Regions from separate parts of the Homo sapiens genome. Here region 1 is linked to region 2. The links come from fine-mapping of genetic effects on gene expression. Tissue or cell type: monocytes. Region 2 holds a variant in brackets; the other region holds the start of a gene. All regions are shown on one strand. Distances are from middle to middle.

What was found. PIP is the estimated chance that this variant, and not a neighbour inherited with it, causes the effect.
Region 1: it holds the start of EDC3, and the variant in region 2 is fine-mapped to the expression of EDC3 in monocytes (Quach 2016, PIP 0.91).

What each region holds. Positions count from the first base shown.
Region 1 is chr15:74,691,284-74,699,383 of GRCh38, forward strand. EDC3 (enhancer of mRNA decapping 3) reads right to left here and starts at 4,741. Exons shown (of 7, transcript NM_025083.5): 1 at 4,597-4,741. RefSeq lists an enhancer at 4,701-4,790.
Region 2 is chr15:74,431,320-74,439,419 of GRCh38, forward strand. SEMA7A (semaphorin 7A (JohnMiltonHagen blood group)) reads right to left here and starts at 2,639. Exons shown (of 14, transcript NM_003612.5): 1 at 2,422-2,639. The coding sequence starts at 2,599. RefSeq lists silencers at 1,802-1,921, 2,072-2,221, 2,272-2,781. The variant T/G (reference allele first, on the strand shown) is at 4,705.

The sequences.
Region 1 (8,100 bases), 260 kb after region 2:
CACCTATCTCATAGAACCACTATATGAATTATTTTAAGATACTATATGGATTATTTTAAGATACTATATGGATTATTTTAAGATTAAATGAGATAATCCATATAGTGTCTACAACATAAAAAATTTTAGTTCAAATGTCTCCTTTTGCCAGAAAGAATACCGATCACATAGGGAACTTAAGTTATGGCGCTGTGAGGGCCACCTCACTTCTCACCCAAACAAAATTACAAAAATACATGAATTCCCTCTACAACATCTTGGAAATCAAGTCCTGGTCTTTACACTGGAATACACATGTCCGTAGGGGGTACACAAAGATATGCAAGCAAGGGAATCAACTTCCATGCTACTCTCATAAACCTGATCTGTGTGGATAACTAGATGATCAATTTTAAATTTTCAGGCATAAAATTTATTACTTTAGGATGGGTAGGAAAACTACAGCCCTAAACCAGATCTGGTCTGCTACCAATAAAGTTTTATTGGAACACAACTACACAAAAATACTTGCATATTATCTACGGCTATTTTCTGGGTTTTTTTGGGTTTTTTTGAGACAGTCTTGCTCTGTCGTCCAGGCTGGAGTGCAGTGGAGCGATCTCGGCTCACTGCAACCTCCACCTCCCGGGTTCAAGCGATTCTCCTGCCTCAGCCTCCCAAGTAGCTGGGACTACAGGCGCCCACCAACACGCCCGGCTAATTTTTTTTGTATTTTTTAGTAGAGGCGGGGTTTCACTGTGTTAGCCAGGATGGTCTCGATCTCCTGACCTCGTGATCCGCCTGCCTCAGTCTCCCAAAGTGATGGGATTACAGGCGTGAGCCACCGCACCCGGCCACATATTGTCTATGGCTGTTTTCTCACTACAGTGAGAATTAAGCAGTAATCACAGAAACCATGTGGCCCATAAAGCCTTTCATCTGGCCTTTGACAGAAAGTTGACTTTTGCTTTAGGATAAAATTCTGTGGGAAAAGTGGAATGGATACAAGTTCAAAAAGAAAAAGGAAAAATATGTAATGGACAAACTCCCAAAATGATAAAAATGACCAAAACTAACTCAACTAACTATATTAAGAAATTGAATTAGTAAAATCTTCCCAGAGAGAAAAACCCAGGCCCATAGGACTTCACTGGTAAATTCTATGAAACACGTAAGAAATAATACCAATCCTACACAAACTATTTCAGAAAACAGAGGAGGAAGGAACACTTCCCAATTCATTTTATGAGGTCATAATTACCCTGCTACTAAGGCCAAAGATGACATAAAAAAAAGGAAACCTCAGACCAATATCCATCATGAACACAGTCACAAAAATTAACAAAATGTTAGCAAATTGAATCCATCTATATGTAAAAAGTAGTAGATACATTACTAAGCAGGGTTCATTTCACAAATGCAAGATGGGTTTAACATCTGAAAATCAAGTAATGTAATAAGCTATGTTATGTATTTCTTACAGTCTTTGTTTCAAAAGTTTAGTTGTATGTTTTTACAACATCAAATTGATATTGTATTTAGGTAATTTTATATTTATTTTTAAGAAGTCAATATTTACTTGTCAGAAATTACATCCTAAACTATTTAAAATTAAATACTTACACTATGTAAATCTAGGATGAAAAGTTTCAGGTGCCAACTTAAAAGTATATAAGATCTAACAGATTCCACAGTCTTTTAGACATTCTCAAGAAGAAATGTTTTAAGACTAGTGACCCAGCCTATACCTGAAAGCCTGAAATGACAAGGAGAAAAATAATCATTCATGCCAAAGCAACACCACCATATCTTCAAACTTTTGACTTCTGCCCATAAATTTACTCTTAGCACATCTAGATCTAAACCTAATATTCCAGGTACAAGCCTACCAGTGATGCAACCTTTCTCATTCTAGATTTTGCATTTTCCTGATACAATATACTAATGCAGGTCACATCGGTTCTTCTCACAGCCTTCTTAACCACACCACTGATTGGTGATTAAAACATCACATCTTTTTATTATAGAACTCCTGTGAGGTCACATCTCCACCCTCCCCTAATAGGTATAGTTGATTTTGTTTGGACCCAAGCGCAATTTCTCACATTTATACATGCTTCCTTCATTTCATTAAACAGCACTGAGCAAATTATATTGAGATCTTTTCCCATTCTGGCAATCACCAACCAAATGACTCTTTCTTTACTTCACAAAGGCACCAAATCCAATAAGCAAACCTTCTAGATAAGGTCTCAAATACATGAAGTATATAAAGAAAGTGATGAAACCCCAGTTTAGATCACCGGAATTCCAGCTGTAAGTAGTGTCCACAAATCAAACCTCTCCATACATAGATTTTCAAACTCATGACTCCATCTAACTACCACAATCTGGCAAATTCCTCCATCTCGCCCACTCAGTTATAGTAAGACTCAGTAAGACCAGGCGCGGTGGCTCACACCTGTAATCCCAGCACTTTGGGAGGCTGAGGTGAGTGGATCACCTGAGGTCGGGAGTTCGAGACCAGCCCGGCCAACATGGTGAAACCCCATCTCTACTGAAAATACAAAAATTAGCCAGGCGTGGTGGTGCATGCTTGTAGTCCCAGGTACTTGGGAGGCTGAGGCAGGAGAATCGCTTGAACCAGGAGGCAGAGGTTACAGTGAGCAGAAATTGCACCACTGCACTCCGTCCAACCTGGGCAATGGAGTGAGACTCCATCTCAAAAAAAAAAACAAAAACTTCATAAATGCCTTGCTAAAATTCTGACACACTATCATTATGGTCACTACACTCCTTTGAGCCACAATTTGGATGTCCTGTCCTGTTGTTCTGGCTGAATTTAGGAGAACTCTAGTAAGCCCTTCTCTGGATAAGAAAAGAAAAATGATACATCTTCCATTTTGTATTAATTACAGAATCTCACAAATGGCAAGGATTTTAAACATTTTCTAATGTTGTTTTTCTTAGACAGAGTCTTGCTATGTTGCCCAGGCTGGCCTTAAGCAATCCTCCCACCACTGCACTCGGCCCTAGTCTAATATTTTTCTTTTCTTTTCTTTTTTTGAGAAGTTTAGTTCTTGTTGCCCAGGCTGGAGTGCAGTAGCATATCTTGGCTCACTGCAACCTCTCCCTCCCAGGTTCAAGCGTTTCTCCTGCCTCAGCCTCCCAAATAGCTGGGATTATAGGCACCCACCACCACCCAGCTAAGTTTTGTATTTTTAGTACATACGGGGTTTCACCACGTTGCCCAGACTGGTCTCCAACTCCTGACCTCAGGTGATCCACCCGCCTCAGCATCCCAAAGTGCTGGGATTACTGGCGTGAGCCACAGTGCCCGGCCTTAATATTTTTCAAACTATACGTCATGACCTATTAGGGGTCAGACTCAATTTAGTGAGTTGCAACCAATATTTTTTTAGAGTGCATCTTCTGTAGAAAGGGTAAGTAAACTTTTCATTGGTGTGTGTGTGTGTGTACACACTGAGTGTGCAGGGGCACAATAAGTCATGATGTATAATATATCTAACTGTGGGTCACAGGTAAAAAATTTTGAGACACTTTTCTAGCCCCACAGCCCTATGCCAAGGAGGCTCTACCAAGAAATTGGTAATAAACAAAATGTCATGTTTTTACATCATACAGAGAAACTAGCTAAGAGGATTTTGTGCTCAGTACACGTAATCTGCCATTCATTAAAAAAAAAAAAAAAGATTAGGATCCATCTGGGTGTCCAGTTGAAATACTAAACTGCTTGGAGACAGCCATTTCTGTTTTGGTGGGGTGAAGACCTGTATTTGAGACAGCAGACTGAAATCGGTTTGGTCTGTGGCGAAGGAAGAGAAGAAAAACCATTCTGGGTCGCGAGTTCCTCACCTGTAACCACAGGAGAAGACTGTTGGCTTGGTCAGTTGATTTTCAACTAATCTCCCAATTGAAGAGTTAGGCGAAGCAATTGCTATTGGGAGATTAACTGAAAATTAACTGACCAAGCCAACAAGGACTATGCCTCCCACAAACCAAAACACTTTAACCACTCAGCAAGTCAAGTATTGATACATACAATCAATATCACACAAAGTGTACTGAAAAGAACCACAGACTTGCATCAAAGGCAGAAATGAATCCAGGGATAACTTCCTGGGATTCGAAGATGTGACCTGGTAGGTATAAATTTCTCAGGCATCCTCTTTTTCTACCCTCCAGTTCATCTCCGTCCTCAAGCTATCAGTCATGGATGTGGCACTGGCGTTCTTCTCTGCCACCGTATCTCATTATGCAAAGGGAAACTGAGGCACGAAGAACAGAGTGAGTGAGCCAAAGAACTGCAGCAGCCACCAACAAGGCTGGACTAAGGGCCCAAGCAGCTAATGCCTCACTCCCCACACAATCCCCATACTATTTAGAATCCTGCAGTCCTCAGCCTTCCACCTCAAACCAAACTCCTGGGGCCGCCCGTAGTACGTGGTCCCCTGCTCATCCGATGAAGCCCCCAGCTCTTGCCTGCCTGCCTGCCTCTATAAAGGTCTACGAGGCCTGGAACTCTGAAGCCTAAAGCAACCCCGGCAGCCCCCTCCCACGACCGTCCACAAACCAGTAGCCTCCCTTCGCTCCCACCTCCGCGCCGACGGGCCTGGAGCTCCTCCGCACACCACACCAAGCCGACCACTCAACACCAGAGGACCCACAGAAGAATTCTCTCCACGCCCACCCCCACAGCATCGGCCTTCACCACCGCCGCCGCTGCCGGAAGCGCCCCCACGTCTCCACGCCACCACCGTGAGGTCACTTCCGGCGCGACACCTTGGAATCCAGGGCCGTCAATTGAGGGGCGTGGCACCCGGGAAATTTAAGAGGTTGGAAGAACGTCCCTTCGGCCTTACAGAATTGCGCTTGGGTAGTCATTTTGCCCTCCACGCTTACTTATGTCCTGTGGCGTCTTGGCTGGAATCGGGGCTCTACCCACGACTCCCCAGCCTCGATGCCTGGGCCCCCCTCTTGCAGGCTCGATGAAAAGCACCCGCTTCCCCTCCTGTTACCCCAGCGCCAATCGCAGAGCTGGAGCGGAGGACTTTCAGGGAGGCCTGGTGACGTGACAGCCCCTCCGTGCTAAACTGCAGCTGTGGGACTTAATAAGTGCGACAACCCCCTGATGGATTAAAGAAAACAAGATATTCCTGCCGTGGTCGATCTTCAAAGCGTATCAGCTTCAGCCCTTTTGGGGGTTAAAATCAGCCAGTCCGTGCTTGACTGCTCTCCCTTCCCCCATACTCAGTACACAGGAAAGTGCCGCTCTTCTACCCCTGGCATTTTAGAGTCTTGATTTGTGGGGAGACGGGAAAGCATGCGTTTAGGGCCAAGACCGTGTAATGAGGAATATTGCACAGCCTTGAAGCCTGACACCTGGTTTGGGAACCACTACTTGGGCGAATAGCATAGAGTAGGGTAGCAGTTCCAAACCTAGCTCTACAAAATCAGTTGAAGAACTTTGTAAAATCTACACTTTCTAGGGGACTGCTTCACCCTTCCCCCTCCATCACCAGAGATTCCCTAGGTCAGAAGGGGTCCTTGTCTTTTAAAATTACTGTTATTAATGAACACTTATAGAGCAGTTTTTGGTTCAGGGCAAAACTGAACAGAAAGTACAGAGTTCCCATATATCCCCTGTACACACAGGCACATACACAACTTGTCCCCTCATGGACATCTTGTGCTACAGTGGTACATTTGGTAACAATTGATTACCCAACTTTGACACATCATTATCACCCAGAGTCCATAGTTTACATTAGAGTTTACTCTCGGTGTTGCACATTCTGTGGGTTTTGACATATATGTAATGACATGTATCCACCATTATGGTATCATACACGATAGTTTCACTGCCCTGAAAATCCTCTGTCCTCTGCCTATTTATCCTTCTCAGTCCCCTAACCACTGGCAACCACTGCTCCTTTTACTGTCTCCATAGTTTTGCCTTTTCCAGAATCCCATATAGTTGGAATCATACAGTATGCAGCCTTTTCACATCGGATTCTTTCACTTATGCACTTAAAGTTCTTCCATGTCTTTTCATGGCTTGATAGCTCATTTCTTTTTTGTGCTGAATAATAATATTCCATCGTCTGGATGTGCTGCGGTTTATCCATTCACCTACTGAAAGACATCTTGGTGGCCTCCAAGTTTGGGTAATTATGAATAAAGCCGCTATACATCATGTGCAGATTTTTGTGTAGACATGAGTTTTCAATTCATCTGGGTAAATACCAAGGAGTGCAACTGCTGGATTGGATGGTATATTTAGTTTTGGGAGAAACTACCAAACTGCCTTTCAAAGTGGCTGCATCATTTTGCATTCCCACAGCAGTGAATGAGGGTTTCTGTTGCTCCACATCCTTGTCAGCGTTTTGTGGTGTCAGTATTTTGCCGTTCAAGTAAGTGTGTAGTAGTATCTTATTGTTTTAATATGCAATTCCCTAATGACATATGATATTGAACATCTTTTCATATACTTACTTGCCATGTGTATATCTTCTTTGATGAAGTGTTCATTCAGGTATTTTGCCCATTTTTACATTGTGTTATTTTCTTGTTGTGATTTAAGAGTTCTGGGTATATTGTAGATAACAGTCCTCTATCAGATACGTCTTTTATAATATTTTCTCCTAGTCTGTGGCTTGTCTTCTCATTCTTCTTTTGAAGAGCAGAAGTTTTAAATTTTAATGAAGTCCAGCTTATCAATTATATTTTTCACAGATTATGCTATTGGTATTGCCCTAAAGTCATTGCCATTCCCAAGATCAGTTAGGTTTTCTCCTGTGTTGTCTTCCAGGAGTTTTATAGTGTTCCATTTTACATTTAGGTCTACAATCCATTCTGAGTTAATTTTTATGAAGGGTGCAAGGTCTTTGCCTAGATAATTTTTTTTTTTTTTTTGAGACGGAGTCTCACTCTGTTGCCCAGGCTGGAGTGCAGTGGCACGATCTCAGCTCACTGCAATGTCTGCCTCCTGGGTTCAAGTGATTCTCCTGTCTCAGCCTCCCAAGTAGCTGGGATTACAGGCACCCGCCACCACACCTGGCTAGTTTTTGTATTTTTAGTAGAGGCAAGGTTTCACCATGTTGGCCAGGCTGGTCTCGAACTCCTGATCTCAATTGATCTGCCCACCTCGGCCTCTCAAAGTGCTGAGATTACAGGCGTGAGCCACCGTACCCGGCCTGATACATTTTTATGTGTGTGAAAATTCAGTTGTTCCAACATAATTTGTTGAAAAACCTATCTTTGCTCCATTATATTGCTTTAACTCCTCTGTCAAAGATCAGTTGACTACGTTTATGTGGGTCTACTTCTGGATTGTTTATTCTTTCACCAATACCACATTGTCATTATTACTGTAGTTTATAGTAAGTCTTGAAGTTGGGTAGTATCAGTCCTCCAACTTTGTTCTCCTTTAATAGTGAGCTGGCTCTTCTAGGTCTTTTGTATCTCCATATCAATTTTACAATCAGTTTGTCGACATCCACAAAAATAATATGCTGATACTTGGATTGGGATTGCATCGAATCTATAGATCAGGTTTGGAAGAACAGACATTTTGACTATATTTTCTTTCTATCTGTGAACATGAAATATTTCTCAATTTATGTAATTCTTTTATATCTTTGATCAGAGTTTTGTAGTTTTACTCATATAGCTCTTGTATATGTTTTGCTGTATAGATTTATAACCTGATGACTTTTTTTTTTTTTGAGACAAAGTTTCACTCTTGTTGCCCAGGCTGGAGTGCAGTGGCACGATCTCAGCTCACCGCAACCTCTGCCTCCTGGGTTCAAGTGATTCTCCTGCCTCAGCCTCCCGAGTACCTGGGATTACAGGTATGCACCACCACGCCCAGCTAATTTTGTATTTTTAGTAGAGATGGGGCTTCTCCATGTTGGTCAGGCTGGTCTTGAACTCCCGACCTCAGGTGACCTGCCCGCCTCAGCCCCCCAAAGTGCTGGGATTACAAGCGTGAGCCACCCAGCCTACCTTTTGTTTCTCTAAATCTGCTCTTTCTGAAGTTAGTATACCTACTCCTGCTTTCTTTTGATTAGTGTTATCAATGATATATCCTTCTCCACC
Region 2 (8,100 bases):
GGCCTGAGCTACGCTGTGCCAGACTTTCATCAAGCTGCAGAGGCAGCAATCTCCCTGATCAGTGCAGGCTGGGCCCCTCTCAGAGTTCCCTGCTTTAATCTTTCTCTAGAACTTGGGGATCCAAGCAGCAGAAAATAAAGAACTTTCCATACCTATTCCAGTCCCCACAGCTGTCCTGACTCAAAACTAAAACCCCCATCTATGCCTCATAGAGAAATGGCTCCAGAACCACCACCATCCCTGATTTTGTCATTCCTGGATACCACCATACTCCCACCCACCACTGGTAGACAGAGCTCTAGGCTTCCAGAAAGACCCCCTCTTACCCTGTTCCTGGGTTTGTCCTACCCAAGCCCATTCCTGTCCGATTGCCATGTGTCACCCCACAGGAGACAGGAGGCAGCTGTCAGTCGGGCACACCATCACCAGCTGGTGGCCCTGGGGGTGGGGGGCAGGTGAATGGCAGGGCCTGTCTGGCCAGTGGGGCACCTGGCACTGGTGAAGGAGACCACAGACTGTCGTTGGACAAGACTGGTGAACGGTTGGCAGACCCCAGCCAGCGGGGCTCAACAGTGCATTACTAAGCAGAGGGCACAGCCAGTGTGGCTACAGCAGTGAACTGCGGGCGGGGGGGTAGGCCATGGAGCTGTGCTGGGAGCTTCGAAAAGTGGGTAAGAGGACTGAAAGCAACTTTAAATAGCCTCAGGGTGGGAACTAAGTGCCCAGGATGGGATGTATGCATTAAGTGCTAAGAAGTGGGTGTGCATTAAGTGGGGTGGGGGTGGGGGGTCATGGGAAGACTTTGGGACAGGCAAACAGAGTCAAAATGCAAGGGGTTTGATGGAGGGAAAGATTCCAGAACACTCAGATGTGGCCATTTGTCCCCTCCAGAGTGCCCACACGCTATGATGTCCAAGACAGCCAAGGAGACTGAGGGAAGGCAAAGCTGCTGGGAGGGCAAAGGAAGCTTGGGCTGGAGCTGGGATGGCAGAGGGGTGTGCAGGCCTCCTCCATGTACAGGCGGCCGGAGCTCTAGCAGCACTGCTCGGCTTCCTCCAGGAGCACCTCAGGCTGGGTAGCCGAGCTGGTCCCCAGAGCACCTCATTCATGGTCCCTGAACCACCTAAATCCTTCTCCCCTCCCTAACCCAGAACCTGGACTGGTCCTGTGCCAGATCAGAGCCCCTGCCTGCACCTGGGCTCCCACACTGCTCAGTGACCTTGGGCAAGTCACATTCCCTCAGCTACTGCGGCAGTTCGGGCCACTCGTTTTGTGTATGGTTTTTTTTCCCCTCTGCTAATAATACCTGCCCCAGATAATGCTCAGACTCCCGCAATCCCTGCAAACTGCCAAAGGCATCAAAAGGCTCCCGGTGGGGCCAGACCCGACCAGTTCCCCCAGCCCCCACTGCGAGTCCCCCACCATCACGACAGGGGGGCCGCAGACACGCCAAATTTGGGGACAGAGCCGAATCGGACTGGGGGCGGGGAGGCATTTGTGTGCAATGCAGGGGAGGGGAGATCAGTTCCTCGCGGCAGAAAGCCTCAAACCCCCGCCTAACCGGCTTTCTGTCCCATAGTACAGGGTCTAAACTGAGGTGCCCTGGGGGAGACTCCAGTCCCCCAGGTTCTTATTATCTACCCTGGCCTAAAGGCTGCACCCCCGCCCTAGATCCACCGCCTGGGGGTCCCAACGGCCGTGCCCCACCCAACGGGCACTGCCCCCCAACGCTGGAGCCGATTTCTGGTGACAACTGCCACGTGCGGGCAAGGGGGGAGCGGCCGGTCCCGGCATTGCTGAGGCAGCGCCCTGGTACCCCAAGCCGCCGCACCGCACCATGTCCCGCCGCTCGCTGCAGGATGCCCACCCCCTTGCCTGGCCCGAGCTCCGGGCCGGGGCGGGGGCGGGGGCAGGCGGCGGGGTCTTTGTTCCCGCTGCCGAAGCGCGGCGGCGGCGGCAAGGGGTCCGCGCCCCCCTTGCCGGCCCAGCCTGCGCCCCGCGCGCCAGCAGAGCCCGCAGCTCAAAAGGAGGGTACCCGGGTTGGGGTCCCAGGCGGGGAAAGGTCCTCCGCCGAAGCCCCCGAGCCAGAGGACCCAGAGTGGCTCGGGGCCGAGAGAGGGGCCCGCCCCCTCCCCTGGCGCCCGGGCGTTGCGGCTCCTGGCTGCCAGGGACTTGGTGCGACTTAGCCGGGGCTCCGGCCCCCGCCGCTCGCTCGCCGCAGCGTTACAGCCGGCTCTGGTGTGCCAGCGTGTACACTCACACACACTCACCCAAACCCACACGCTCCACGCGGGGACAGCGCGGGGACAGCCCGGGACCCGCAGAGCTGCGCGCACGCACTCCCTCCGGGTGCAGCACACTCCGCACCCGCCCCGCGCAGCGTCTGATCCCGCGCCTGACCGGCCGCGCGGCGCCGCCTACCTTTCCAGACGGCGAAGATGCGGGGTCCGCTCCTTAGGTGGCCCTGGGCGGAGGCGGCGGCCGCCCAGAGCAGCAGCAGCAGCCGCAGCCGCAGCGGAAGCCCCAACCGAGCCGGCGGGCCAGGGACGCGGGCGCGCGGTGCGCTGGGGGCGGCACGTCCGGGCGGAGGAGGCGTCATCCCGTGGCCCCGGGAGCGACAGCGGCAATCAGCCGAGACTGAGCCAGCGCCCGGCCGCAGGCAGACCCAAGCGCCAGGAGGCGGAGCCAGCGCTGACCCCACCCCGCCCCTCCCCCCGCCCCTCGCAGCCTTTTCTCGCCTCACTGGCTTTCCTGAGCGAGAGCGGAACTGCTGGGGGAACCTTCGCCACCCTCTCCCGGGCAACTCTACGGGGAAAGCCCAGCTGCGGACAAGCCAGACTTGTGGTCTTCTGCCAGGGGCGGCAGGCCCTATCCCCTCTCTGGGCCTCAGTTCCACTCCCCGCACCCCGTAAAAAGATTGGCGTAGAAGTCGTGGAGGACCTCTCTCCAAGGGCGCAGAGGAGTCCAACACCCAACAACCTTGCTATGGCCAGCTAAGTGGTTCGCACCCTGAGGACTATGGTCCTCGGAGGATGCGTTCGCCTAAGTGGACACGGCTCCCTGCTGAGCCTACCAGCAGGCACAACGATGATATGTGGGGAGCACTCAGGGACCCGCTGTTGCTTTGCCTGGGAGAACACTGGAAATTTTTCATCTTGGCCTGGCTCCTTCCCCTCCCTCTCCTTTCTCCTCCCTTTCCCAGCCAGCAGCCTTCTGGGCTGCCTCCCCCCAAGCCAGCTGGTGTACGCTCAGAAAATCCAAACTCATTTCCATGTGAGTGGAGGGGGATATAATTAGGAAGGCCCCTTCCCCAAGTAGAGAGGGGAGCATCCCCCGTGCCCCACTCACTGTGGGGGAGGGAGGGTCAAAGCAGCTTAAGGGGATCTCTGCCCGCAAAGTGCCTAGGGCTCAGCTATCTCAGGCAACCTGACCATTCAGTGGGGACTCCCTTGGGGGGTCCAGGCCCAGACCCTCTGCAGTTACCTGAGCAGTCCAGCCAGCTCTGCCATCAGCTCCTCCTCTCAGAACTACGTGCCTGCCCTTTGTAAAAGGGTCTCCTCTCTCTAGACCAGACAGGGCCCAGACCTACCACTTCCACTTGTGCCCCAGGGAACCATGAATGGAAAATCCACCCAGCTCAGTAAGTACTTATCTAGTGTTTACTGGATGTCTAGCTGCACTGAGAGGAGACAGGCCGAGGAAGGAGTAGAGGTGAACATCCAACCTTCAGAACTCACAGACCTAGACACGATTCACGCACTGCAGACACCAGCAAAGGCGGTGGGCTGGCTGCCCTCTGCCCTCTGCCCTGCTCCATGGGGCCAGGACCATTTGGTTGTTGTTTTTACCTCCTGGAACCAGGAAAGTTTTGCTACCAAGAAGTTTGGCTTTACCATTCTACATTTTGCTTCCAGTTGTCCCCTCCTTCTTCCCTCAGAGTCCTGAGGCACCCCAGCAGGCCAGGAAGGTAAACTCAAGGTACCTCCAGAGACAGTGCAGAGTGAGGTTCCTGGCCCACTGGGTGAAGCCAACAGCCTCCTGATACACAGGGGCACACTGCCCCAGAGAGGGAGGCTGTGGACAGTCTAAGAGCTCCTCCTCAGGCCTGCACCTAAGCCTGTGGCCCTGAAGCCAGCAGTGGAGCCTGGCCCAGGCCAGCCTCTAAGATGGACATTCGGTTTCACCTGCTAGACAGGTATTGCCCTCAGTGTCTGTCCTCTCTATGCAAAGCTAGGGCAAACTAAGAAATCACCTGTCTCTGCCTTTTGGAACTAAGAATTCAAATGGATTCAAAATCAATGATAACACTGCCCATGTGCATGGCAACTCACAACACATAACCCACATTCACCTACCTCATCTCTGCCAGTCCTCCACTCTCTTCCTCTCACTGAGGGAGGGAGCGTAACTCCACTGCAGAGAAGAAAACTGAGGTACAGGGAGGGACAAGGACGGACCTGCCCGAGGTCAACCGGTAAATGGTAGAACGAAGATGGGTTTTCTGACTGCAATAACAATTGCTAACACTGTGGTTCCTATGTGCTGTGCCATCTCATAGCCTCTCCCAACTCATTCAATCTTCGCACTCCTATGAGATAGGAGCTATTAGTCACCTCCCTTTACAAATGAAGAAATCAAGGCACAGACAAGGGATGTGAAGTGCCAGGATCGCACAACTAGAGGCAGGACGGATTGAAACTCAGG[T/G]GGTTTCTCAAGGACCCACACCCTTGACTTCTCTCTGTGTGATGTACCCTGGCACTGCTGCCTCCTGTCTGTGGCTGAAGTCTGGGTCCAAACCATCCCCAGAAGGACCTAGATAGGGCCCAGGTCACCAGGTGCTGAGTAGGAGGGCAGACCAGGGAATGGGCTCAATCTCCCAATCAACAGAGTAGCAGATGGAAACTGGGGTAGATGCCAGATAATTTTTTTTCCAGACTGGGGGGTAGGGGGGAAGGAAGTAGTACTTAAGACCATCCTCCCCACAAGCCAGCCAACCTGGGGACAAAGGGCCAGGCGAGATGGCAGCCCACTCTCTCGGTTGGCTGCAGGCAGCCAGGGGAGGAGAGAACTAAGCCCATGACTTGAGGCAATAACTTTATAAAGGGAAAGGCAGCTAGACTGTGGGGCAGGCACTATGACCAGAGTTTAGGCATGGACTTTCCTGCCTCAGGCAGCATAGGAAAATCAAGTCAGAATGGTATAGGTGGTGTCAGAGGCCTGCCTGCCTCATTGGAGGCCAAGGCTGGCTCTTGAGCCTGGACCAAGAACAGGGGCACAATTCCCACTCACAGCCAGTGATGGGAAGTGGACCAGCAGAGGAAGCAACACATGTGGATGCTGACACGTCTGATGGGGAGGCACATTCTTGTCCCTCCCTTCTCCATGATTCCACATTCAGGGGAGGGAGGAAGAAATGATGCAGGGCTTCTATCGATAAGAAAAATACCTTGAGAAGGATCACTTCCTGAGCCCCATGGACAGCTGAGGCACAGCCCAATCCAAGAAGGCTCCTTTTGGAATGAAAGAAATGGATACACACAGACCTGAGATTCATGGTCTTGAAGCAGTGGCAGAAGCCCCGGGCAATCCCCCCAACATTCCAACTAAAGCCTCTCACCTTTCAGGGTCCAACTTAACTCATCCTTCCATTCTCCAGAGTTATCTGACCTCCTCCTCAGCCCTGATTCCATGGCTACACATGGCCTTCACAGGAGTGACCCACCTCAAACAAGAGGCCTGTGGGAGATAGAAGGATTCCGTGAGGAGATAACATATGCAGACGTGAGGTCACCCACACACAGTTCACTTCCTTTCACAGATACGATGATCCAAGAATCCCAATTCTTAGGATTAGAAGTAGCTCTCAGAGGGCATTCAATCCCCAACAGCCCCCTCCATGCTAGATCCCACCCCTTCTTTGAGGCCTCAGAGCTTGGTGGCCATTCAGACCTCCTGGCTACTAACAGCAGCAACAATTCCTATTGCCTACCACCATTACTACCTATTGCAGGGGGCAGAGACTTGGAACTGATGAGAACGAGGGGAGTGGGTGGGCTGGGGTCTGCAGAACCCTGTGCTGTCTATAAGGCAATTTCGACTCAGCTCCAGCCCATGGAACCATGAAGAAGTAAACCCAGTAGTGAAAGGTAGTATGATTTTCAAGAGAAGCTGAAAATTGAGGGCTGGGCACGGTGGCTCATGCCTGTAATCCCAGCACTTTGGGAGGCCAAGGCAGGTGGATCACCTGAGGTCAGGAGTTCAAGATCAGCCTGCACAATATGGTGAAACCCCATCTCTACTAAAAAATACAAAAATTAGCCGGGCATGGTAGCGAGCGCCTGTAATTCCAGCTACTTGGGAGGCTGAGGCAGGAAAATCACTTAAACCCAGGAGGCGGAGGTTGCAGTGAACCAAGATCGCACCACTGCACTCCAGCATGGGACACAAGAGTGAAACTCTGTCTCAAAAAAAAAAAAAAGAAAAGAAAAGAAAAAAGAGGCCAGGGGTGGTGGCTCACGGCTGTAATCCCAGAACTTTGGGAGACCGAGGTGGGTGGATCACAAGGTCAATGATTTCTGTCCTAATCATTCTACATGCATTTTTATCTGACAAGGTCAGGAGTTCGAGACCAGCCTGGCCAAAATGGTGAAACCCCATTTCTACTAAAAATGTAAACATTAGCCGGGCATGGTGGCACGCAACTGTAATCCCAGCTACTTGGGAGGCTGAGGCAGGAGAATCACTTGAACCTGGGAGGTGGAGGTTGCAGTGAGCTGAGATTGCGCCATTGCACTCCAGCCTGGGTGACAGGGCGAGACTCCATCAAAAAAAAGAAAAGAAAATTGACTCTTTGTTGAAACTCTCTCTTTTAAAATATTGGCAAATAATTCAAAAGTTAAGGAGGATGGATATGGGCAAATAAAAACAGGTCTGGGGCCCATATCTGGGACCCCCAACATACCATGTGCCCACTGTGACTATCTCACAGGCACAGGCACGACAGTCACTATACCTGGCCCAACTCTTGGCAGACCATGTCAGGCAAGGAGTGCCAAGAAGACACTTCTCAGGCTGCCCAGGCCATGCCTCACCCTCCCCTCAGTGCTCTGCCTGCCTCCAAACCTCAGCCAGGACATTCCCCTCAAGTGCCTGCCTCTTCCTCCTAGACCAGTTCAGAGATCACCACCTTCCATACATCAGTTCAGCCCACTGTGAATGGAGAACTTCTCAGAACTGCCACCACCTTCTTAGCCCTGAGGGTCGTGCTCCCAGCAGCATCCCATGCCTACATCTCTGCTTTCTATCCTAATCATTCTACGTGCATTTTTATCTGATCAACCCTACCTAAATTGCTAAGATCTAAGTAGGGCCAGCCAAGTTAAGTAAGACAAAGGAAAAATCCAAAGAGGAATATTCAGTCAGCAGAGAAGAGACAGATTTTTTTTCCTTCTAGCAGGGCACTCAGCTCACCTGAAAACACTACAGGTCCTGTGCCTTCCACAGACAAATCAGCAACATCCTTAGCCCCAAGCCCCAAACTTGGCCAACGTGGCACTGGGCTTGTGGTGGGAGTGCCACCTGGTGGCCACTCTGGAACAGAGCCGAGTCTTAGCAAAGACCAAGTGCATCTCTGCTCTCTGTTCTAGTCATACATTCTACATGCACTTTTCTGTGATAGACACTCCCCAGACTTTCTGGAGACAAACTTCTCCCTCCCATTCCTATGCCCCTAATCCATCTCTGAGCCTCTATTCTCACTGTCCAAAGCCTGAGGCAGGGCAGAATCTCATGGATGTCACATAGAATCCATCTAGACTAACAAAATCTCCTGACTAGACATGGCTGGGAGGCCAAAGATGAAGTCTCAGCCTGGATACTGACTCAAGCAAGGCCCTGACCCAGTCCAGGCCTCTGTTTCTTTGTGTACAAAATGAGAAAGAAGAGCTAAAACTCCATCTCTTCTCCTGGTCTATCTTCTCTCTGTATCAGAGAGAGACAAAGCTTTCTCATTCCATCTTCTGCATTTCCTTCTATAGGATGAATTAAATATGCTTTTAAATGATGTCGGCCAGGCATGGTGGCTCACGCCTATAATCCCAG